Homo sapiens: one gene and its partners. The protein of the gene in region 1 interacts with the protein of each later gene in a pairwise test. Each region holds a gene or a part of one and is shown in the gene's direction. Other genes may lie near its edges.

Evidence for each region.
Region 2: the proteins of JADE2 (region 1) and SASH1 interact in a two-hybrid assay, tested with the Homo sapiens proteins (one large-scale study listed by BioGRID).
Region 3: the proteins of JADE2 (region 1) and ZNF496 interact in a two-hybrid assay, tested with the Homo sapiens proteins (one large-scale study listed by BioGRID and IntAct).
Region 4: the proteins of JADE2 (region 1) and TTC3 interact in a two-hybrid assay, tested with the Homo sapiens proteins (one large-scale study listed by BioGRID and IntAct).
Region 5: the proteins of JADE2 (region 1) and ZBTB5 interact in a two-hybrid assay, tested with the Homo sapiens proteins (one large-scale study listed by BioGRID and IntAct).
Region 6: the proteins of JADE2 (region 1) and ZBTB3 interact in a two-hybrid assay, tested with the Homo sapiens proteins (one large-scale study listed by BioGRID).

Annotation. Positions count from the first base shown.
Region 1 is NC_000005.10:134,556,670-134,560,169, forward strand, and holds part of JADE2 (E3 ubiquitin-protein ligase Jade-2), read left to right. Parts: intron 1-3,160; coding exon 3,161-3,321; intron 3,322-3,500. UniProt on the Homo sapiens protein: Scaffold subunit of some HBO1 complexes, which have a histone H4 acetyltransferase activity. Acts as an E3 ubiquitin-protein ligase mediating the ubiquitination and subsequent proteasomal degradation of target protein histone demethylase KDM1A.
Region 2 is NC_000006.12:148,545,338-148,548,837, forward strand, and holds part of SASH1 (SAM and SH3 domain-containing protein 1), read left to right. Parts: intron 1-677; coding exon 678-809; intron 810-2,957; coding exon 2,958-3,221; 3' UTR 3,222-3,500. UniProt on the Homo sapiens protein: Is a positive regulator of NF-kappa-B signaling downstream of TLR4 activation. It acts as a scaffold molecule to assemble a molecular complex that includes TRAF6, MAP3K7, CHUK and IKBKB, thereby facilitating NF-kappa-B signaling activation.
Region 3 is NC_000001.11:247,307,868-247,311,367, reverse strand, and holds part of ZNF496 (zinc finger protein 496), read left to right. Parts: intron 1-911; coding exon 912-1,044; intron 1,045-1,561; coding exon 1,562-1,669; intron 1,670-2,779; coding exon 2,780-2,893; intron 2,894-3,340; coding exon of another isoform or gene 3,341-3,495; exon of another isoform or gene 3,496-3,500. UniProt on the Homo sapiens protein: DNA-binding transcription factor that can both act as an activator and a repressor.
Region 4 is NC_000021.9:37,160,254-37,163,753, forward strand, and holds part of TTC3 (E3 ubiquitin-protein ligase TTC3), read left to right. Parts: intron 1-548; coding exon 549-605; intron 606-1,736; coding exon 1,737-1,810; intron 1,811-3,500. UniProt on the Homo sapiens protein: E3 ubiquitin-protein ligase which catalyzes the formation of 'Lys-48'-polyubiquitin chains. Mediates the ubiquitination and subsequent degradation of phosphorylated Akt (AKT1, AKT2 and AKT3) in the nucleus.
Region 5 is NC_000009.12:37,437,602-37,441,450, reverse strand, and holds the end of ZBTB5 (zinc finger and BTB domain-containing protein 5), read left to right. Parts: coding exon 1-933; 3' UTR 934-3,349; downstream 3,350-3,849. UniProt on the Homo sapiens protein: May be involved in transcriptional regulation.
Region 6 is NC_000011.10:62,751,361-62,755,519, reverse strand, and holds the start of ZBTB3 (zinc finger and BTB domain-containing protein 3), read left to right. Parts: upstream 1-1,359; 5' UTR 1,360-1,556; intron 1,557-1,804; 5' UTR 1,805-1,855; coding exon 1,856-3,430; 3' UTR 3,431-4,159.

The DNA of each region.
Region 1 (3,500 bases):
ACATGCACACACACACACATCACACAACACATACACACCACACACACACCTCACACATCACACAAAACACACCCCACACATACCACATGCACACGCACGCACACCACACACACACCTCACACATCACACAAAACACACTCCACACATACCACATGCACACACACACATCACACAGCACATACACGCACACACCACACACACCTCACACATCACACAAAACACACCCCACACATACCACATGCACACACACACATCACACAGCACACAACACATACACACACACCACACACACACCTCACACATCACACAAAACACACCCCACACATACCACATGCACACACACACATCACACAGCACATACACACACACCACACACACACCTCACACATCACATAAAACACACACACACCACACAAACACACACACACACACAGTGATTACTGTGTGTCAGGCATTTTCCTAAGAGTTTTGCAAACTTAATCCATTTAATCCTCTCACCAACCACATAAAGTAGGTATTATTATTGTTGTTATTATGATGATGATGATGATGATTATTATTTTTTTTGTTGTTGTTGTTTTCAAGCTTTTATTTTTTTATTTTTTTTTTTATTTTTTTTTTTTTCAGACAGAACCCATGCTCTTTATTAGATTATGTTGCCTATGTTTAAAAGTGTTCAAATTCAGTCTTTTACATTGAAAATAACTTTTTTTTTTTTTTTTAATTATACTCTAAGTTTTAGGGTACATGTGCACATTGTGCAGGTTTGTTACATATGTATACATGTGCCATGCTGGCGCGCTGCACCCACTAATGTGTCATCTAGCATTAGGTATATCTCCCAATGCTATCCCTCCCCCCTCCCCCGAACCCACCACAGTCCCCAGAGTGTGATATTCCCCTTCCTGTGTCCATGTGATCTCATTGTTCAATTCCCACCTATGAGTGAGAATATGCGGTGTTTGGTTTTTTGTTCTTGCGATAGTTTACTGAGAATGATGGTTTCCAATTTCATCTATGTCCCTACAAAGGATATGAACTCATCATTTTTTATGGCTGCATAGTATTCCATGGTGTATATGTGCCACATTTTCTTAATCCAGTCTATCATTGTTGGACATTTGGGTTGGTTCCAAGTCTTTGCTATTGTGAATAGTGCCGCAATAAACATACGTGTGCATGTGTCTTTATAGCAGCATGATTTATAGTCCTTTGGGTATATACCCAGTAATGGGATGGCTGGGTCAAATGGTATTTCTAGTTCTAGATCCCTGAGGAATCGCCACACTGACTTCCACAATGGTTGAACTAGTTTACAGTCCCACCAACAGTGTAAAAGTGTTCCTATTTCTCCACATCCTCTCCAGCACCTGTTGTTTCCTGACTTTTTAATGATTGCCATTCTAACTGGTGTGAGATGATATCTCATAGTGGTTTTGATTTGCATTTCTCTGATGGCCAGTGATGATGAGCATTTCTTCATGTGTTTTTTGGCTGCATAAATGTCTTCTTTTGAGAAGTGTCTGTTCATGTCCTTCGCCCACTTTTTGATGGGGTTGTTTGTTTTTTTCTTGTAAATTTGGTTGAGTTCATTGTAGATTCTGGATATTAGCCCTTTGTCAGATGAGTAGGTTGCGAAAATTTTCTCCCATGTTGTAGGTTGCCTGTTCACTCTCATGGTAGTTTCTTTTGCTGTGCAGAAGCTCTTTAGTTTAATTAGATCCCATTTGTCAATTTTGGCTTTTGTTGCCATTGCTTTTGGTGTTTTGGACATGAAGTCCTTGCCCACGCCTATGTCCTGAATGGTAATGCCTAGGTTTTCTTCTAGGGTTTTTATGGTTTTAGGTCTAACGTTTAAATCTTTAATCCAGATGATGATGATTATTGAGACGGAGCTTCGCTCTTGTTGCCCAGGCTGGAGTGCAGTGGCACGATCTCTGCTCACCACAGCCTCCGCCTCCCGGGTTCAAGCAATTCTTCTGCCTCAGCCTCCTAAGTAGCTGGGATTACAGGCATACACCACCACGCCTGGGTAATTTTGTATTTTTAGTAGAGATGGGGTTTCCTCATGTTGGTCAGGCTGGTCTCGAACTCCTCATCACAGGTGATTCACCCGCCTTGGACTCCCAAAATGCTGGGATTACAGGCATGAGCCACCACGCCCAGCCTGGTACTATTATTATTAACCCATTTTGGGGGATGGGAACACTGGGGCCCAGAGAAGTTTAGTGGCTTCCCCAGAGTCACACAATAAGTGGTGAAGCTGGGCTTTGAGTCCACACCCTGCGGGCAGGCCTCTCCAAGCTGCCTCAGCGGCAGAGCTGTGGCCACAAAGGAAGGCTGAGCTGGGGAGGGATCCTGGGACTGCAGCAGGCACATCTTTGTATCCAAGGGATTTGGCCTCTGTCTTGGTCCTGGGGCCGGGTAACACTGTGTAGCAGGACACTCACTGCTCACATGACATTGTATCTGGGAGAAGGGCAGGGTGGCATGTGGACCTTTTGTCTGGAAAGGGTCACCCTGGGCCGCAGCCGTGTAACCAGGTAGGGCTCCTCCTGACACCAGAGGAGACGTGGCCTCAGTTCTACTCAAGTCAATGGAGTTTTCAGGCTGTTGGTAAGAAGGGGGCTTGGGCTTCTGAGAGTACGTAGACAACCCCTGCCTTGTCCGCAGCCTTGAAGGGTATGCCGAAGGACCTAGAATCCAGCTGGCACTACCTCACTTGTTGCTGGCACAGGGCATTGCCCATGATGGCACATAGGATACCTCTTACAGGCCCTAGCAGTGTTAGATCCAAACTGCTGGGCTTTAGCTAAGGCCCCGCTACCCTGATGGCAGGAAGTGGGATGAGCTCTGGGCAGGTGGATGTTTATAGGGTAAGCAAGGCTGCGGATCAGCCCTGACTCCCATCCCCCACTGTGCCCTACTGCCCTTTGGGTTTTCTGTGTACTGCCTGTTCACCCACAGTCATCTGAGTCTCTGCAGGGTGGGCAGATGGTGGAGGAGGAAGTGAAGGAGGGGGTGGAAGGAGGTGGGCCCTGTGTGGTGTCAAAGCACACTTGTCCATCAGCTCCTGAGCTGGACTGGTCAGCTCCCTGGAGCCCCTATGGCGGCAGGCTGAGGGCCCCTCCCTTCATGACATCCTGTCTTGATTTTCTAGGATCCTCCCACCACTGGAAGGCCCCCCTGCCCAGGCATCCCCGAGCAGCACCATGCTTGGTGAGGGCTCCCAGCCTGATTGGCCAGGGGGCAGCCGCTATGACTTGGACGAGATTGATGCCTACTGGCTGGAGCTCATCAACTCGGAGCTTAAGGAGATGGGTAGGTGACCACTGCATTAAGAATGGGATCACGGCTGGGCAGGGAGGGTTTTCTCCCCATCCCGAGAGGGACAGTGGCCCAGGCAGGGCTATGGTATGGCATGGATCTGGAGGGAGTCTCCATACTGCATTACTGAATGGGGACCTCACTGGTTAGTGTCTCTGTGCCACCTGAAGTTT
Region 2 (3,500 bases), on another chromosome or scaffold:
CTTTATTATAAAATTCTCATGACAATGAATGCCTTAGAATCAGATCCTCCTCCACCTCTCTGACCCTCCTTGATATTTCCTGAGTGAATGTCTTTAAATGAAAGGTAGTGAGAAAGACCATACAGTAAATGCTGGCCTAGTGAGCTGGTGGTATCACTTGTAGCAGATAAAGTGCAAACAGTTGAATATCTGTAAAGCAGAAGTTAGCCCTTCTCTCCTGCAGTTTAGAAGACTCTCTTCAGTAACATTAGAGGAGTTGTATTTTGCAAAATGATCTGATTGAGGCGAAGGCATTGTCCTGAAAAATGTGGAATAATTGTGTTCTGCCTTAACTATGCTTCAGAACATTTTCCTAGAGCTCATCAGTACTTTAAGATAAAGATGTAAAAGTATTCCCTCTAAAGCATTCATCCTGACCAATAAAGAAAATATATTCATTTCAAATTCAAACTTTTGGGTTGGGTGTGGTGGCTTACGCCTGGAATCCCAACACTTTGGGAGGCCAAGGCGAGAAGATCGCTTGAGCCCAGGAGTTTGAGGCTGCAGTGAGCCATGATCACACCACTGCACTCCAGTCTAAGTGACAGTGAGACCCTACGTTATATGTGGTGTATCTTAGGGAAAGAAAAACAAAATCCTTATGACTCTTGATGTCATATTCCTGTTCTCCCTGGCAGCATGGCCGCTGTGGGATTCCTGAAGCCCTGGTGCAGAGATACGCAGAGGACTTGGATCAGCCCGAGCGGGACGTCGCCGCCAACATGGACCAGATCCGGGTGAAGCAGCTTCGGAAGCAGCACCGCATGGCGGTGAGCAGCCCACAGTTCTCCAGCTTCCTGAGGCACATTTAGTGATCACGCTTAGTGATGACCATACTAACAACTGCCAAGTAGGCAAGGGCTTGCGTAGCTATGGAAAGGAGACAGCTGGGGAGAAAGTAATATGTGGTCAGCCTAGAAATGTTTAAAAATACACTTTCAGAAAGAAAAAAAAAATGAAAATTATCCGTAATCCCAACACTGTGAAAAACTTTTTAAAGATCCGTCTAGTGCTGGGCGTGATAGTGCACACCTGTAATCCTAGTTACTTGGGAGGCAGAAGCAGGAGGATTGCTTGAGCCCAGAATTTTGATGCCGGCCTGGGCAACATAGTGAGACCCCATCTCTTAAGAAATAAAATAAAATCCGTCTGAATGACACAGTTTCAGTTAGAAGCATAACTTCCAAAGATCTATTGTTCAACATGGTGACTACAGTTAATAACAATGTATACTTGAAAATTGCTAGGACAGCAGATCTTAAGTGTTCTCACCACAAAATATAGTATATGAGGTAATGCATATGTCAAATAGCTTGATTTAGCCATTCCACAATGTGTACATTTATCAACACACCACGTTTTACACCATAAATACACACAATTTTTACTTGTCCATTAAAACTCTGTCTAGTCATTTCTCTGCACATGCGTAATGTATGCGTAAATGTATAGTACCGAAACCTGATTGTTGGCTATTATCAGATCATGAATCTGTTTCCCTGTTACTTAAAAAAAAAAAAATTGATATCATCAATACAGTAGTCTCCCCCTATCCATGAGGGATTATGGTCCAAGACCTCCAAGTGGATCTCTTGAAAGCTTGCTGAGTACCAAACCCTGTATATATTATACACAAATTTCTTTTTCCTTCACAATTTCATGGATAGAAGATTCGTTTTCACTGTAGGTCTTAGGAACCTCAGCATACAATTTTTTTTCTTTTCTTATTAAGTCAAGAACTCTCACCTTTTTACTTAAAGGAAGCACTTAAGGGCTTCTCTTTGCCACGTGCGAATGGCCAGCATCGTTACTCTTGCACTTGGGGGCCATTGTAAGGTCAAATAAGAGTGACTTGAATGCAAGTACTGCATTACCGCAACAGTTGATCTGATGACTACGGGCTACTAAGTGACTGCGGGGCTGGTGGTGTAGGCAGCGTGGATTTGTTAGACAAAGGGATGATTGTCAGGTGGGACAGAGCTGGGTGGTGTGAGATTTCTTCAGACTACTCAGAATGGCATGCAATATAAGACTTATGAATTGTTTATTTCTGGAAATTCCCATTTAATATTTTCAGGCTGTAGAAAGCAAAACCATGGATAAGCAGGGGGGTGGCTATTGTATTTCAAAGTATTCTAGTAGGTCAGTGTACTCTAGTAGTGAGTCTCATAGTTAAAACATTTAGATTTTTCTAACCTTTTATTTTAAATAATGTAATGAAGAACATCCTTGTTAATAAATCTTTGTAGACTTTAAAGGTTAATTTCTGAGTAGATATTCCTGGAAGATGGTTTGCTTCATCAAAATTGTATAAAATCCCAAAGATTTTCATACTCGTTAGCAAATCACCTTTCTGAAAGGTGCAGGCCCTTTATATACCCAGTAGTCAAGGTTAAATGTCCACTTCCCTGTTCCAGCCAACCCTTGATATTATTGTATTTTAAATTCTTCATAACTTGTATTGACTAAACATGTAATTTTCTGGTTGTTAACATAGATTCAAAATACAGTGGAAAGTCTCCTTTATAAAAACCCTACCCACTGAATGCTACATTTCACACGATCACCCAGATTTGTCCCTTCAGACTACCTTAGGGCTCTTTGTCAAGAGCATATCCACAGTGAAACAAAATAGCAGAATATGTAAATGCTTATAGTTTGAAGACTCGGACACATAAATGGGATTTGACCTCATTCCAACACCTTCGAGAACCTTGTGGAACTCTTCCTTAAAGATTTGTTTCATCTTAGAGAAGAATTTTTCCTGCTAGTCTTGATCTCTGACACTCATTGCATTGTCGCTTTCTGATAATAGTCTAGCAATGCAGTATTTCAGTGCTGTTCCTTTTAGACATACGCGAAGTAGTCCTCGATGACACATGGAGCGTTTCTATCATATTCTTTCTTAATTTATCCAGATTCCAAGTGGTGGACTCACGGAAATCTGCCGAAAGCCCGTCTCTCCTGGGTGCATTTCGTCTGTGTCAGATTGGCTCATTTCCATCGGTCTGCCCATGTACGCCGGCACCCTCTCCACCGCGGGCTTCAGCACACTGAGCCAAGTGCCTTCTCTGTCTCACACTTGCCTTCAGGAGGCCGGCATCACAGAGGAGAGACACATAAGAAAGCTCCTATCTGCAGCCAGACTCTTCAAACTGCCGCCAGGCCCTGAGGCCATGTAGCCAGGCCCGGAATGGGCCTCTCTGGACAAGAGCCACCCTTTCACTGTGCATATGATGCTGATGCAATTCCTCCATCATCTCTGGACGTGCAGACCAGATCCAGAAGAAAGGCCTGGCGTGTGGCCAAACAGCGTGAAACCTTGGCACAGGACTGAGGATCCTCTCCTCCAGAAAAGCCCCCTCGAGGAAATAAATTAGTGCGGTTCTCTTTGACCCCCAAAGACAAGACAAGCACTTATTTTTATTTTCAGAAGACAAAAGAACCAAGATGCCAACTGG
Region 3 (3,500 bases), on another chromosome or scaffold:
AGTGCAGTGGCATGATCTCAGCTCACTGCAGACTCCGCCTGCCGGGTTCAAATGATTCTCCTGCCTCAGCCTCCCAAGTAGCTGGGATTATAGGTGCTCACCACCACGCCTGGCTGCTTTTTGTATTTTTGGTAGAGATGAGGTTTAACCGTATTGGCCAGGCTGGTCTCAAACTCCTGACCTCAGGTAATCTGCCTGCCTCGGCCTCCCAAGGTGCTGGGATTACAGGTGTGAGCCACTGCGCCGGCCTCACCACTATTTGGAAGGCACATAACTTGTTTCATTTCACAGGTTCACAGCTGGAGAGAATTTTGTGTCAGGTAGAATTGTGCCTTGAGTTTCAACCGTAACTGATTTAGATGATATTTAAATGAGATGTTGGACTCCGGACTTTTGAGTTGATGCTGGAATGAATTAAGACTTTGAGGGTTATTGGGATAGAATGAATTTGTTTGGCATGTGAAAAGGATATGAATTTGGGGGAACCAGGGGCAGAATGCTATGGTTTCAGTGTTTATATCTCCCCAAAATTTGTGTTGAAATTGTAATCCCCAAGATGATGGTATTAGGAAGTGGAGACTTTTGGGGAGATGATCTGGTAACAAGGGCAAAGTCCTCATGAGTGGGATTAGTCCCTCCTAAAAGAGGCCCCAGAGAACTCCCTTGCCCTCTCCATCATGTAAGGACACAGAAGACACCTGTCTTTTGACCAAGAAGTGGGCCCTCACCAGGCACCCAGCCTGCTGGCACCTTGATCTTGGACGTCCAGCCTCCAGAACTGTGAGGAACAGATTTCTGTTGTATAGAAACTGCCCGTCCTACAGCGTTGTGTTGTCACAGCCTCAGTGGACTAAGACTGAGACACCTAGCTCGTCCCGGACTGAGGCATCCCTGTTCTCCTGTGCTTTCAGAGTCGGGTTTCTCCATTCAAGGACATGATTTTATGCTTCTCTGAAGAGGATTGGTCCCTTCTAGATCCTGCCCAGACTGGCTTCTATGGAGAGTTCATCATTGGGGAGGATTACGGGGTCTCAATGCCTCCAAGTAAGACTTAACTTCCCCCCACACCTCAAGACCAGGGAACTGGGCAGGGGAGTTCTCACTTGGAGTAAGAGTCAACTTCGTCCCATAGGATCAGGGAAGCGGGGCCTGCATCAGATCTCTCTGTTCACCCCCAACCTGGACAGGAGGTCATTTGCACACAGCGGCCCTACAGGCAGTGTGTCCGATTGACCATCACCTGCTGTCTCGCCACATCAGGCTTATCAGAACCAAATAGAACATGTGCTGTATGTCCATTTCTCTTCCATCGTTCTTACCGTTTTGTCCCTTTATGTCTGCTTTACACCCGAAAGCCTCAGAGAGACCCCCAAGCCCATAGCTCTCCCTGCGTGTGCTGCCCCCACTGCCCCTGCACTGCCAGCTCTGGCCTTTTCACTTCTCGCCCCTGATGGTGCCATGCCCGCTGGGCATCCCTCCGCCTTCTCTCTTCTGGACCAGCCCTGGTTGCTGCAGGATCAGATTACTAATAAACATGTACCCTGCCTTTTTCTTTGAACAGACGACCTAGCTGCCCAGCCAGATCTCTCCCAGGGAGAGGAGAATGAGCCACGCGTTCCAGAGTTGCAGGATCTCCAGGGCAAAGAAGTGCCCCAGGTCTCCTACTTGGGTGAGTAATGATTCCAGAACTGAGTGGACAGAGTAGGGGGAAGGGTTGCTGGCAGCCGGAGGTGAGCCCACTCTCTGGCTTCTCTCTGCGGCCCCTAATTGCCTTCTTCATTTCCCCAGACTCTATGTGGGTCTTGCATGTCTTGCCTTGTCCCTGACTTTTCATAGAAAGAATGGAGGATCTTAATTTTGCCAGGCATTGGAATTGTACTCCCTTGGCCAAGGACTGGGAAATAATAGGAATGTCTTTCTCCTCTGCCTGTAAGTAACATCTGGTTTGTGCTGACAATGCAGCAGCCCCTCCAGGAGTGAAGTCAGATACTCATGACAAGCCTAGTTGCAGAGGGAGTGTCTCCTAACTGGGCACCGAGCGCAGCCCTTTGAGGTGCCTCACCTGTCTAGTCTTCCCATCTGCCTGGTACAGGGGTGCTGTGAGGACACTGGGGTGTGGGGAGGTGCTGGGGCTCAGCAGCAGCAGTTTCCAGCCCTCCTTCAGGCTGTGTCGCCAGCACTTGCACCCATGATCTCCATGCCATGGTGCTTCGAAGCATCTGCTCCTTCAGGAGGAAATAGCTTTGTACAGAATCATCAGCAGCTCCACACCTTCTTCCCCTTTGGGACCTAGAGCTGGCATGAAGCAGACAAGGTTTTGACACACCATCCCCACCTGGAACAAGCGTTCAGAGACTTGGTGTGGTGCAGTAGCTCCTGTACCATCTCTACCCTGTAGGCTCTGCACAAGCTGTTTGTGCAGGATGTGCGGAGTGTGCAGGAGCCTGTGGTGATGACTATAGAAAACCCACCACAGAAAGTGGGAATAAATATGGGGCTGGGGGAAGTGCTTGTCTCTGGCCATAGAGTGGGTGGAGTAGAACCCGGATCTACGTCGATTCTGTCTAGCGTCAGAGCTCATGTTTGTGGAGTTGGCCCATTTTGCCTTCAGGTTCATTCACTCAGCAGACACTTATTGAGTGGCCACCCCCTGCCAGTCCCCAGGACGGAGCCCAGGGCCGCCCCCAGATCGTAGCCTGGCATCTATTCGGATAGCACCCTCCCAGGTAGTGCTGTAGGTGCAAAACAAATCAATTTTTCCATTTCCTCCTCTGGAAAGACTCTCCAAGTCTCCAGCCATTCCAGGTAGAAGAAAGAAGGAAACGTGAGGAGCTGCAGGTGCCAGAGTTCCAGGCCTGCCCACAGACGGTGGTGCCTCAAAACACCTACCCAGGTAAAGAAGGGTCAGGGAGGTATGGGTTTGTCCCTGTGTGTCTGTGGTGTGTCGCATGAATGTATGTATGCATGTGTGGCATAGGGGATGGTTGTGTTGAATGCATGTGTGCGTGCATACACATGTGGTATATGTGGTGTGCTGCATGTGTGAGTGTGTGCATTCATGGGTGCACCTGTGTGTTGGGGGCATGTGGGTGTGTGATGTAAATGTGCGGTGGTGATGGCATGGGACAGTTAGGAACTGAACCCCTCAGGATCCCCGCCGACCTCTGCTGTGGTGTTCTTAGCTGCTTGCCCTGATTCCGTTGTGCTGGGGTCATTCTCCAGCTCACTCCCAATCCCAGGCTCACCCTCCTTGCCTTTCCCAGGGGCCGGGGAGGGTGTGTCAAAGCAGGGTGCTGCTGTAGTGCTGTTGGTGATGCAGTGAGTGTTTTTCTTCTCTCAGCATGGATGGCCAGCATCCTGGCACAGAATCTTGGAACTGGGATTAAAGAGCAGGTTTCTGGCATACTGAAGCTGCACAGGACTCTTGGAAAGTGTATGTTCCATTCCTGCTTTCAGAGAAATAGCCACAGTGTAGACTCTGAGTCGTCTTGGTAAAAGTC
Region 4 (3,500 bases), on another chromosome or scaffold:
GGCAGTTTTCAAAGAGAAAAATGCCTGTTTACTGATTTTCAGGAGCAAATCATCTATCTATATGAAATTTTGTCTTAATCTGCTCCATCAAATATTGCCCAGCTAAGCAGGGAAACACAGCTGAAATACTCCATAAGGAGCTGAAGGCTTCTTTATTCACTGTTTGTGCCCCAGTGTCTGGTCAGGTGCAGAATGTCTAGTTTGGCTTAGTAAAAGAAATATATTAATAATAAATTTACTATTATGGCATCTAACTGGAATTACTTAAAAGTCTGATTAATTACTTGAAATAACAGTCCAACCCTGTGGAAAATAAGATAAAAATGTTGGAACAACTTAATTTTAGTATACATTAGTATTATTAAATTTTGTTTGTTTTCTATTATAAATCGTAGCACTTGGGCTGATACACTGTAGTGTTATTTTTGTTAAACATTTTATGTACATTTAACTTATGGCTAGTCTGTAAAAACTCATATGGTTTCTTTATGTTGAGCTTCATAATGCTGTTATTTGAGTGTTCACTGATTTTTCCCCCCATTTTTTAGTTTAGTTCAACCAAGGTGAAAAACAAAAGCAAGAAAAAGAAGCCAAAGGATTCAAAGGTATGGAGTATTTTCTGTATTAATTCTTGTCTAAACTCTCCAAAATAGTTAGTTGGACATATACATTAGAATTGAGCAATTCTTGGGATATTTTGAAACATTTGTAGAGAAAGACTTTCTAGGACTTAAAGATGTTTTGGCAGTCTTCTACATTTTGAAGAAATTCCAGGTTCATATTATATAATAGCAAGTCTTGACACTCGTATTCTTTATTGTCTTTTTTATTTTTCTAGGTATTTCTGAGTAAAAAAAAAAAATTGTCATAATGTCCCAAAAAATAAATAAGTCTCAAAAAATAGATAACATATTTAAACTAAAAATGATGAATACTAATCATTATGACAGTCCCAGGATTGATAGAATCCCTTCCTTCCTCTCACCAAAGGCTCTCCTCCAAGCCCATTAGATAAGTAGGGCATTTTTATTTTTATTTTTGAGACAGGGTCTCCTTCTCTCACCCAGGCTGGAGAGCAGTGGTACAGTGACGGCTCACTGCAGCCTCAAACTCCCAGGCTCAAGTGATCTTCCCACCTCAGCCTCCCGAGTAGCCGGAATGACAGGCGCATGCCACCATGCCCAGCTAATTTTTTGTATTTTTTGGAGAGATGGGGTTTTGCTATATTGCCCAGGCTGTTCTAGAACTCCTGCGTTCAAGCGATCTGCCTACTTTGGCCTTACAGGCGTGAGCCACTGTGCCAGAAGTAGGGCACAATTTTTAAGTCTTTGGTGGGTTCTTCATGGCTCTTGTGTGTATGTGGGGAGCAGAAAGGGGGATGGAGTGAGAGAGAGTAGCAAATCTTCAAAGGATGAGAACAGTTAAGGAGTTCCAATACAACTTTTATTTTTATCTTTGACTATGTATTTAGTTTAGATAAAATGGGAGTTTAAACTGAGTAACATTTAAATTTTTTTGGAGCATTGGAAACTATCCTAAATGTTAATTTGAGCTTATTTTTGGCTGTTGAAACTTTTATTACTATGTGTTCCTGTTTATAAGAAAATTTGGATAGATCTTATATATCAGCAATTTGTATGTGTGTTTATATAAGTATTCATCAATTTTAATGATTTTTCTCTTTAATGGAATTTTAAGGTAGAAAATCATTGTCATTTTTCTGTCTTTTAAACCAGCCTATGTTAGTTGGGTCTGGAACAACTTCAGTAACTTCAAATAATGAGATCATCACTTCAAGTGAAGACCATAGGTAAGTATAATTTTTAAATTTTTGCTTCATTTTAACTCAAATGTCTTTACTTAATAAGTTGTGTTAATTTAATATATATAAACTTGTGTTTTATTTCCCTAACTTTCCTTTCTAAAGCTGTGCATCTGACAACCTGATGTAATTCCATCTTGATTACATTTATATAGTGTGGCTAGAAGGCATTAAGAATTCATTCAAACTGTGTTAAAGTCACGACACTGGTGACATTCATTCACTAAGTACATATTGAGAACCTACCATGTGCAAGGCTCTGTGGGAAAATCATAGAAAAATGTCTAGAAATTATTCTTTAAAATAGTCAATAAAGAGAATGTCCTGTTAATACTTACTAGGCATTTTTGCCTGTAAGAGAGGAAGCTGTTTTGGGAGCTGTATATGATGTTATGTTTTCACCTTATATATTAGTGATTTTCAATGCCATCTGGTTGTCAAAACTGAGTTTTCAATAAACAAATATTTAAGAAATAAAACTAGTGAGTAGCAGTAACCTTTTTATATCATACTCCTTTATGAACCAAAAATGTACAACATGGTTTTTTTTTTCTCATTTCTTAAAGGAGCTATCAGAGCAGTTAAAAATTACGTGGTCATTTCATGGATTCTTTAAGTAGGGTAATTGTTTTAAGTTAAAATAATAGCCTGTCTTAGTCAGTTTGGGCTGCTATAACAATATACCATAAACTGGGAGGCTTACACACAGAAATTTATTTCTCACAGTTCTGGAGGCTGGGAAGTCCCAAGATCAAGGTACTGGCAGATTCAGTGTTTGGTGAGGGCCTGCTTTCTGGTTCATAGATGGTGCCTTTTTGCTGTGTTTTCTCATGGTGGAAGGGACAAGGCAACTCTCTGGGGCCTCTTTTATAAGGGCAATAAGTCCATTCATGGGGGTAGAGCCTAATTACCTCCCAAAGAATCCACATCCTAACACCATCACATTGGTGATTAGGTTTCAACATATGAGTTTTGCAGAAACACAAACATTCAGACCATAGCATAGCCTTTACTGAGATTAATTCTTATGTATCAGACATTGTTTTGGGGGTTTACATACATAAACTCTTTCAATCCACTTATCCTGCCTAGGAGGTAAGTGCTATTATATTCTGTCCAATGTACAGATAAGGAAACTCTGAGGCACAGTGCAGAGCGACTTGCCCAAGAACACAAAGCTTATAAATAGCAGAGCTGGGATTTAAGTCATGCAGCCTGGTTTTAGAGTCCACACTCAAACTACTACATCTTTTTAGAGTGCTAACATCTTACATTTAAAAAAAACTTTTGTTTAGATGGAGTTTCGCTCTTGTTGCCCAGGCTGGAGCGCAATGGCGTGATCTCAGCTCACTGCAACCTCCACTTCTTGGGTTCAAGCAATTCTCCTGCCTCAGCCTCCTGAGTAGCTGGGATTACAGCCATGCGCCATGACGCCTGGCTAATTTTGTATTTTTATTAGGGACGGGGTTTTTCCATGTTGATCAGGCTGATCTCGAACTCCTGACCTCAAGTGATCTGCCTGCCTTGGCCTCCCAAAGTGCTGGGATTACAGGCGTGAGCCACCACACCTGGCTTAAAAAAAACCTTTTATTAATACCATTTACCAGTCTCAGTCTCACTTTAAGTTAATTTATAGCAGTTATAATACAATCTTCATTTGTCTTTCAGTCATTTAACA
Region 5 (3,849 bases), on another chromosome or scaffold:
ATAGACCTCAGCCCTGAAAGCAGTGATCGGAGTTTTTCAGATCCCCAGTCTAGCACAGACAGGGTAGGTGATATCCATATTTTGGAAGTCACAAATAACCTAGAGCATAAGTCCACTTTTAGTATTTCGAATTTTCTTAACAAGAGCAGAGGAAATAACTTTACTGCAAATCAGAACAATGATGATAATATTCCAAACACCACTAGTGACTGCAGGCTGGAGAGTGAGGCCCCCTATTTGTTGAGTCCAGAGGCTGGGCCTGCAGGTGGGCCCTCCTCTGCCCCTGGCTCCCATGTAGAGAACCCATTTAGTGAACCTGCAGACTCCCACTTCGTCAGGCCTATGCAGGAGGTGATGGGCCTGCCGTGTGTGCAGACTTCAGGCTACCAAGGAGGAGAACAGTTTGGGATGGACTTTTCCAGGTCTGGTTTGGGCCTCCACTCCTCCTTCTCCAGGGTAATGATAGGTTCCCCAAGGGGAGGAGCCAGTAACTTTCCTTACTACCGCCGCATAGCTCCCAAAATGCCAGTTGTAACTTCCGTCAGGAGCTCACAGATCCCAGAAAACTCTACCAGTTCTCAGCTAATGATGAATGGAGCTACGTCCTCATTTGAAAATGGCCATCCTTCCCAGCCTGGCCCTCCACAGTTGACCAGGGCATCTGCAGATGTTCTGTCAAAGTGCAAGAAGGCCTTATCAGAGCACAATGTTTTGGTTGTAGAGGGAGCTCGCAAGTATGCCTGCAAAATCTGCTGCAAAACTTTTCTGACTTTGACAGATTGCAAGAAGCACATCCGTGTTCACACAGGTGAAAAGCCTTACGCCTGCCTGAAGTGTGGCAAGAGGTTTAGTCAGTCCAGCCACCTGTATAAGCACTCAAAGACTACCTGCCTGCGCTGGCAGAGCAGCAATCTTCCCAGCACTTTGCTCTAGCTGTTTGTCCTTACAAGACAACGCTGAGGCCAGTTGTCAGACTGAATTTCTTTTGGTAAGCAGTTAATGCCTTTGGGTTCGAGGCTTCCAGCTGCCCAGTGGCTCTTAAACAGTTTAGCAACTAATAACCGGAGAACTAACATGTAGTATTTGTGCTGCTGCATTTCTGAGTGAAGTGCACGTCTTGGGAAAGGGATGCAATCCCTGAAACCAGGTGCTTCCTTGGGGTTGAGTAATGCAGTCAGAAAGTAGTTTGTAATTGATATTAAAAGTGGCACATTTAAAAATTTAAAAATTGAAGTGCAAAAAAAATTTTTTAGCAATTTTTGTAAAACTGTGTAGCATTTAAATTTCCTATACCTTCTGATGGGAGTATTATATCCCTGTATAGTGATGCAAAATGCACTTATGTGTAACCAGTGGTGATTTGGTGCCTGTCTTAAAGGAAGGCCTTTGAGGACACACCTGTCTGCCACAAATGCTTTAAAGTGTATCATGAGCTAGTCCTAGGCCTCAAAGTACTGTATTTTTTATTTTTACCTGATTTGCAGTCATAAACACTGCACTTTGGTGCTGACACTGGGTCCAGAGTGAGCATTCTCTTGGACTATTAGATGTATATACTTTTGAATACATCACTGTTGGATAGATGTTTTAACAGTTTTTTCTGGTTTAAAAACCAAATTGTAAATGGAGTGTGTACTTGTAGAGAGTGACAAGGTATTGTTTCCCTATGTGCTGTTTGAGCAGTATTTTAACCAACTTGTATTACAGATGTTACAGTTCCATGTTAGGAAGTCAGAAAAGACTTGTGTTTGTCTTTGTTCTGCTGATGTGGAGTCATGTTTTGTGGGGTCTTCCATGGCACATTTACCTGTTGCTCCGTCCAGATGTTGAGGGCCAGTCTAGGCTGACACATCCTACCCGAGGACAAGCCTGTTCTCCATTTCTTCACTCTCCCCTCCCCATATAGCAACTCTCCCAGGTTTAGATTACCGTTTTCGACGACAGATTAACCAAAAATGCCCCACACAGGTTTTATTACTGTTATATACTATACTTTTAACAGTACAGACCCTAAATTTTATTATTTGTTGCTCCCCCAATCTGATACCAAATGTTTAAAGTTGTTTGAAATCCAAACATGGTAGTGTTCATGGGTAAATATTTTCTAGGCTATGTAAGAGTTAGCAGCCCATAGCATAGAAGTAATCAAGTAGCATCTGAGACTGTTGGAGGCACTAGGGCCTCTCTGGGCCCTACAGCCTCACTTCCCCAGCCTCACCTTGCTGTCCTCTGACACTGCCATCAGGGCTGTTAGTGGCACCTGTATGAGGCCAAGTGTGCGTCCAGGGGAACAGCACAGGTTAATGCGTCTCCCTAGAACTCATGAAGTCAGTTTAATTCATGCATGAACATGAGTTCATTTTATGTTTTATATAGCTTTCTTAGACATACCAAACCATCATTCATAAATCAGATAAATTATTCAGTTTTTGTGTTTAGAAAGCTAAGTATGTGTAGCTGGAAACAAAAATGAGCGTGTTTTCTCTCCTGTTAATCTAGAGTGTGCAGTTACACATGTGTGGATAATTTCATGTTCCAGGGGCGCTTGGCATCTCCCATGGACTGATTCCCAGGAAGAAAAGCCCAAAGGGAAACCCACGATTCCTTTCGAGTAGATGTGGGAAAGAGCCCATTGGAGGATATGAGGTCCTGTGAAATTCAGTTGTGTGTGTGGCTCCTTGTTAGCAGTCATGTTGACATGGTGTTAGGAGGCTCCCCATCCACCCTTTACATGATGTAGGGACCAGTGTCTTGTGAGATTAACCTTGGGACACAGTGGGTTAGCCTGGAGAAAATGAGAGGCCCTGCCTGGACCCAGGGAGAGGAGCCAGTGACACAGGCAGAGCGGTGCAGCCCTCCTTCCCTTCCATTTGGAGGAGGTGGTGCCAGGAGCCTGCCCGCTTACCTCTGCTGAAGCATAAGTGGACTTTGCTTTTGGGGCTTATCTCTGATACATGCTGGAGCCCTGCCTCTCCACTGCTAGATGGAACCTGGAATCTCTCATCTACCTCTTAGTCTGTCAGTTTCTACGTGTGAGAAGCAAGCTTGTGGGCCAGTGTCCTTGTACATGCTGTAGCACTTAAAAAATAATTCCAGGGTTCCCTGGAAAACCAGTCCCAGGGTTCCTATGATCTGTAGTTTCTACCTGGATTATAACTGGTTTTGGGTACCTGAATTTTGATTGGTTAGCCTTAATTATAGTCTGGCGTGATCATGTAGAATCTTTTCTGGTGAACAGATCATAAAGTTCTATCAAGGAGTTCTATCAAGGCATCCATGTCAGTGGTGCTATGCTGGTTACAACTTGAGATTTTTGAAATAAAAAATTTGTCATATTCATGCCTCTAAATATGTGTTCTTTTTCTTTACGTTATTAAGGTTGAAACCAAAGAGGGTAATATCTCTTTGCCAGCCCTTCTTTGACTAGTACTTTGTTTTAAACCAAACCTTCTATTAACAGTTAATTGGTCGTTCCTCTCAAATCATTCCCTTCTGCCTTCCCCCGCCTTTTCTGTCTTTGAGCTACGCACATGCATGAGATTTTGCTTTTCAGTCTACCCAGTTGCTCTCTGAGGGCCTGCGTAATCTTGTGCTGCTCCCTGGACCTGCCTCCCAAGTTGGAAACTCCATCTGCCAGTTTGGCTTGGCTGCTGGGAAGAGCTGGAAGCTGATTCCTTGAGCACAGAGCAAGGCATTGGCAATGGCAGTGCTGTGGCCTGACCTTGGAGAGAAGTGGGTAAGGTGGTGATTAAAAAAAAAAAAAATCCACCTGGGGGCAGGGAGGGGCTGGGGGGACAGAATGGGCAAAGGGAACAATATGTGTAGGTGCTGAAACTAATTTTAAAATTA
Region 6 (4,159 bases), on another chromosome or scaffold:
GACTCTCAAAGATTTCTTCAGTAGACACGGTTTTTGCTTCTTCTCTCCTGTCCTGGGACATTTTATGATCCTGACCCCATTCTTACCCTTCCTACCAGCACCTGCTCAGCACGCTCTGGAAACAAAGAACACTCTATCCTCTCACTGTAAATTGACTGTAGAGTCCAGGCTAGGGACACCACGACATCATCCCTGTAGCTGCTAGTTCTTTCATGCCATCACTGAGCCGGGAGCCCCGGAAACTTAGCTTGGAGGAGTGGAGCAGTAGGGCATCTTAAAATGTTTTTTTGTTTGTTTGTTTTAGATGGAGTTTTGCTCTGTCTCCCAGGCTGGAGTGCAGTGGCGCTATCTTGGCTCACTGCAACCTCTGCCTCCTGGGTTCAAGAGATTCTCCTGCCTCAGCCTCCCTAGAAGCTGGGATTTCAGGCACGCGCCACCATGCCCAGCTGATTTTTGTATTTTTAGTAGAGATGGGGTTTCACTATGTTGGCCAGGCTGCTCTTGAACTCCGGACCTCAAGTGATCTGCCCGTCTCAGCCTCCCAAACTGCTGGGATTAAAGGCGTGAGCCACCGAACCCGGCAAATCTTAGAATTTTTGAGAGGAAGGGACCTTCAAGAGACAAACGCAGTTCAGGGACGTGGGGCTATTGCCCACAGTCACCAGTTGGTTCTCTTTTTTTGGGGGGGTGGGGGGATAGGGTCTTACTCTGTCGCCCAGGCTGGAGTGCAGTGGCACGATCTTGACTCACTGCAACCTCCGCCTCCCGGGTTCAAGTGATTCTCCTGCTTCAGCCTCCCCAGTAGCTGGGATTACAGGCGCGCGCCCCCAAGACCTGCTAATTTTTGTATTTTTAGTAGAGACGGGGTTTCAGCATGTTGGCCAGGCTGGTATCGAACTCCTGACCCCAAGTGATCCGCCCTCCTCGGCCTCCCAGAGTCCTGGGATTACAGGCGTGAAGCACTGCGCCTGGCCTAGTTGGTTCTCTTTTTCCCTGTCAGCCTGTAGCGGGAGTGGCTTGCTGTCAGCTCGGGTCCGACACTGCAGGGTTCCCGACCTCCAGCCTCGCCAGGAGAGCGCCGCGTTCAGCGACTCGGAGCCGGGTACCTCCTGCCTGCTGGATTAGGTAGAAGGAGAAGCTCAGCCAATCCTGAGGGCTCGGAGGCAAGGAAGGCGGGACGAAGAGGAAAAGTTGAGGACAGGAGCGTCACCCAATCCAACGCCTGACTGCAAAAGCGATGGCGGCGAGCACCCAATTGTAGACGGCAGTTAGAGGGAGGATGGTTAGTGGAGAGCGGACCAATCCGTGACAGGGGAGGGCAATCTTAAGCCAATTAAAGCTGAGAAGGTGGGAAGGGGCGGAGCTCGCCCTGTGGCTGCTCGGTGGTGGGTGAGGTATCAGCTTTCTCCGCTAGTTCCCACCCTGGTAGTCCTTAGCCCCTGGAATGCGTGAGGGAGATGCTTAGGGAGTTCTCGAAGTGGGGCGTAGAGGCATCGCCTGGCAAGGCCTGGGAGCGAAAAAGATCTCTACTTCGTGGAGCCGTTGGACGCTACCGGGTGGGCATCAAGGAAGCGGAGGGTGGCTAAGGGGCGGGACTTCCGGGGGCAGGGCTTATCGGACGGGGGTGGGGCCTGTTCTAAGGTTAGGCCGAGGTGGGCGGAGCTAATGGGAGAGCTTTGGGTGTGACCTAGGAGAAAGAAGGGCAGTAACTTAAGCGATTGTTTTGGAGTGGCAAGTGATAGTTAAGGGCTGATAAGGTTGCTGGGGAGGTTACCTGTCTTAACTCACTGCCCTTTTTTCTCAGGGAGCCACTGGTGGGGACCTTTTTTGGGCCCCCTTTCCTTCGTGGGGTACTATGGAGTTCCCAGAACACAGTCAGCAGCTGCTGCAGAGCCTCCGGGAGCAGCGGTCCCAGGGTTTCCTTTGTGACTGCACCGTGATGGTGGGTAGTACCCAGTTCTTGGCCCATCGGGCTGTGCTGGCCTCCTGCAGCCCATTCTTCCAGCTTTTCTACAAGGAGCGGGAATTGGACAAGAGGGATCTGGTGTGTATTCACAATGAAATTGTCACAGCCCCAGCCTTTGGGCTGCTTCTGGACTTTATGTATGCTGGCCAGCTGACCCTGAGAGGGGATACCCCTGTGGAGGATGTGCTGGCAGCTGCCAGCTACTTGCACATGAATGACATCGTCAAGGTGTGTAAGCGGCGGCTTCAAGCCCGGGCCCTGGCAGAGGCAGACAGTACCAAGAAGGAGGAGGAAACCAACTCACAGCTTCCTAGTTTGGAGTTTTTGTCTAGTACTTCCCGTGGCACCCAACCTTCGTTGGCATCTGCTGAGACATCAGGCCACTGGGGCAAAGGGGAATGGAAAGGCTCTGCTGCTCCCTCACCTACTGTCCGTCCTCCAGATGAGCCACCAATGTCTAGTGGGGCTGACACTACACAGCCTGGCATGGAGGTTGACGCACCACATCTGCGGGCACCTCATCCACCAGTGGCTGATGTCTCTCTTGCCAGCCCTAGTAGCTCCACTGAGACCATTCCTACAAACTACTTCTCTTCTGGCATCTCAGCAGTTTCATTGGAGCCACTGCCATCTCTTGATGTGGGTCCTGAGAGTCTGAGGGTGGTGGAACCAAAGGATCCTGGAGGACCACTGCAAGGCTTCTATCCCCCAGCCTCAGCCCCAACGTCAGCCCCAGCCCCTGTCTCAGCTCCAGTTCCATCCCAGGCTCCAGCCCCAGCTGAAGCTGAGCTGGTCCAGGTGAAAGTTGAAGCTATTGTGATCTCTGATGAAGAGACTGATGTGTCAGATGAACAGCCTCAGGGTCCTGAGAGAGCTTTCCCATCTGGAGGAGCAGTGTATGGGGCACAGCCCTCCCAGCCAGAGGCTTTTGAAGACCCAGGGGCAGCAGGACTGGAGGAGGTGGGGCCAAGTGACCACTTCCTGCCAACAGACCCTCATCTACCCTACCATCTGCTGCCAGGTGCAGGGCAGTATCATCGAGGACTGGTGACCTCACCTCTGCCTGCACCCGCATCCCTGCATGAGCCACTTTACCTGTCTTCTGAGTACGAAGCAGCTCCAGGAAGCTTTGGGGTTTTTACTGAGGATGTTCCCACCTGCAAGACATGTGGGAAGACCTTCTCATGCTCTTACACACTACGGCGACATGCCACGGTGCACACACGTGAGCGACCCTATGAGTGCCGCTACTGCCTGCGGAGCTACACGCAGTCAGGGGACCTCTACCGCCACATCCGCAAGGCTCACAATGAGGACCTGGCCAAACGCAGCAAACCAGATCCAGAAGTGGGACCCCTTCTAGGGGTGCAGCCTCTCCCTGGCTCCCCAACAGCAGACAGACAGAGCAGCAGTGGTGGAGGGCCACCTAAAGATTTTGTATTGGCCCCAAAAACTAACATCTAAGGGAGCATGAGCTGATGCTAGGCTGCTCTTACCATCCTTAGATGGCAGCTCAGAAGGTTGGTGGCACCTTATCACCCCTGCTGGGTGACAAGAATAAAGGCTCTGCCCAGGCTGAAAGTTCCTACCCTTTTTTTTTTTTAATCTTTTATTTTTTTGAGACAGAGTCTCACTCTGTCACCCAGACTGGAGTGCAGTGGCGCGATCTCGGCTCACTGCAAGCTCAGCCTCCCCGATTCACGCCATTCTCCTGCCTCAGCCTCCCGAGTAGCTGGGACTACAGGCGCCTATCACCATGCCTGGCTAATTTTTTTTGATTTTTAGTAGAGACAGGGTTTCACCGTGTTAGCCAGGATGGTCTCGATCTTCTGACAGATCTGACCTCGTGATCCGCCCATCTCCACCTCCCGCAGTGCTGGGATTACAGGCATGAGCCACCGCGCCCAGCTGCCTTTTTTTTTTTGAGTCTTGCTCTGTCACTGAGGCTGGAGTGCAGTGGCGCAATTTCAGCTCACTGCAACCTCTGCCTCCCAGGTTCAAGCGATTCCTTTTTTTTTTTTTTTTTTTGAGACAGAGTCTCACTCTGTCCCCCAGGCTGGAGTGCAGTGGCGCGATCTTGGCCCACCACGCCCGCCTAATTTTTTGTATTTTTTAGTAGAGACGGGGTTTCACCGTGTTAGTCAGGATGGTCTCGATCTCCTGACCTCGTGATCCACCCGCCTCAGCCTCCCA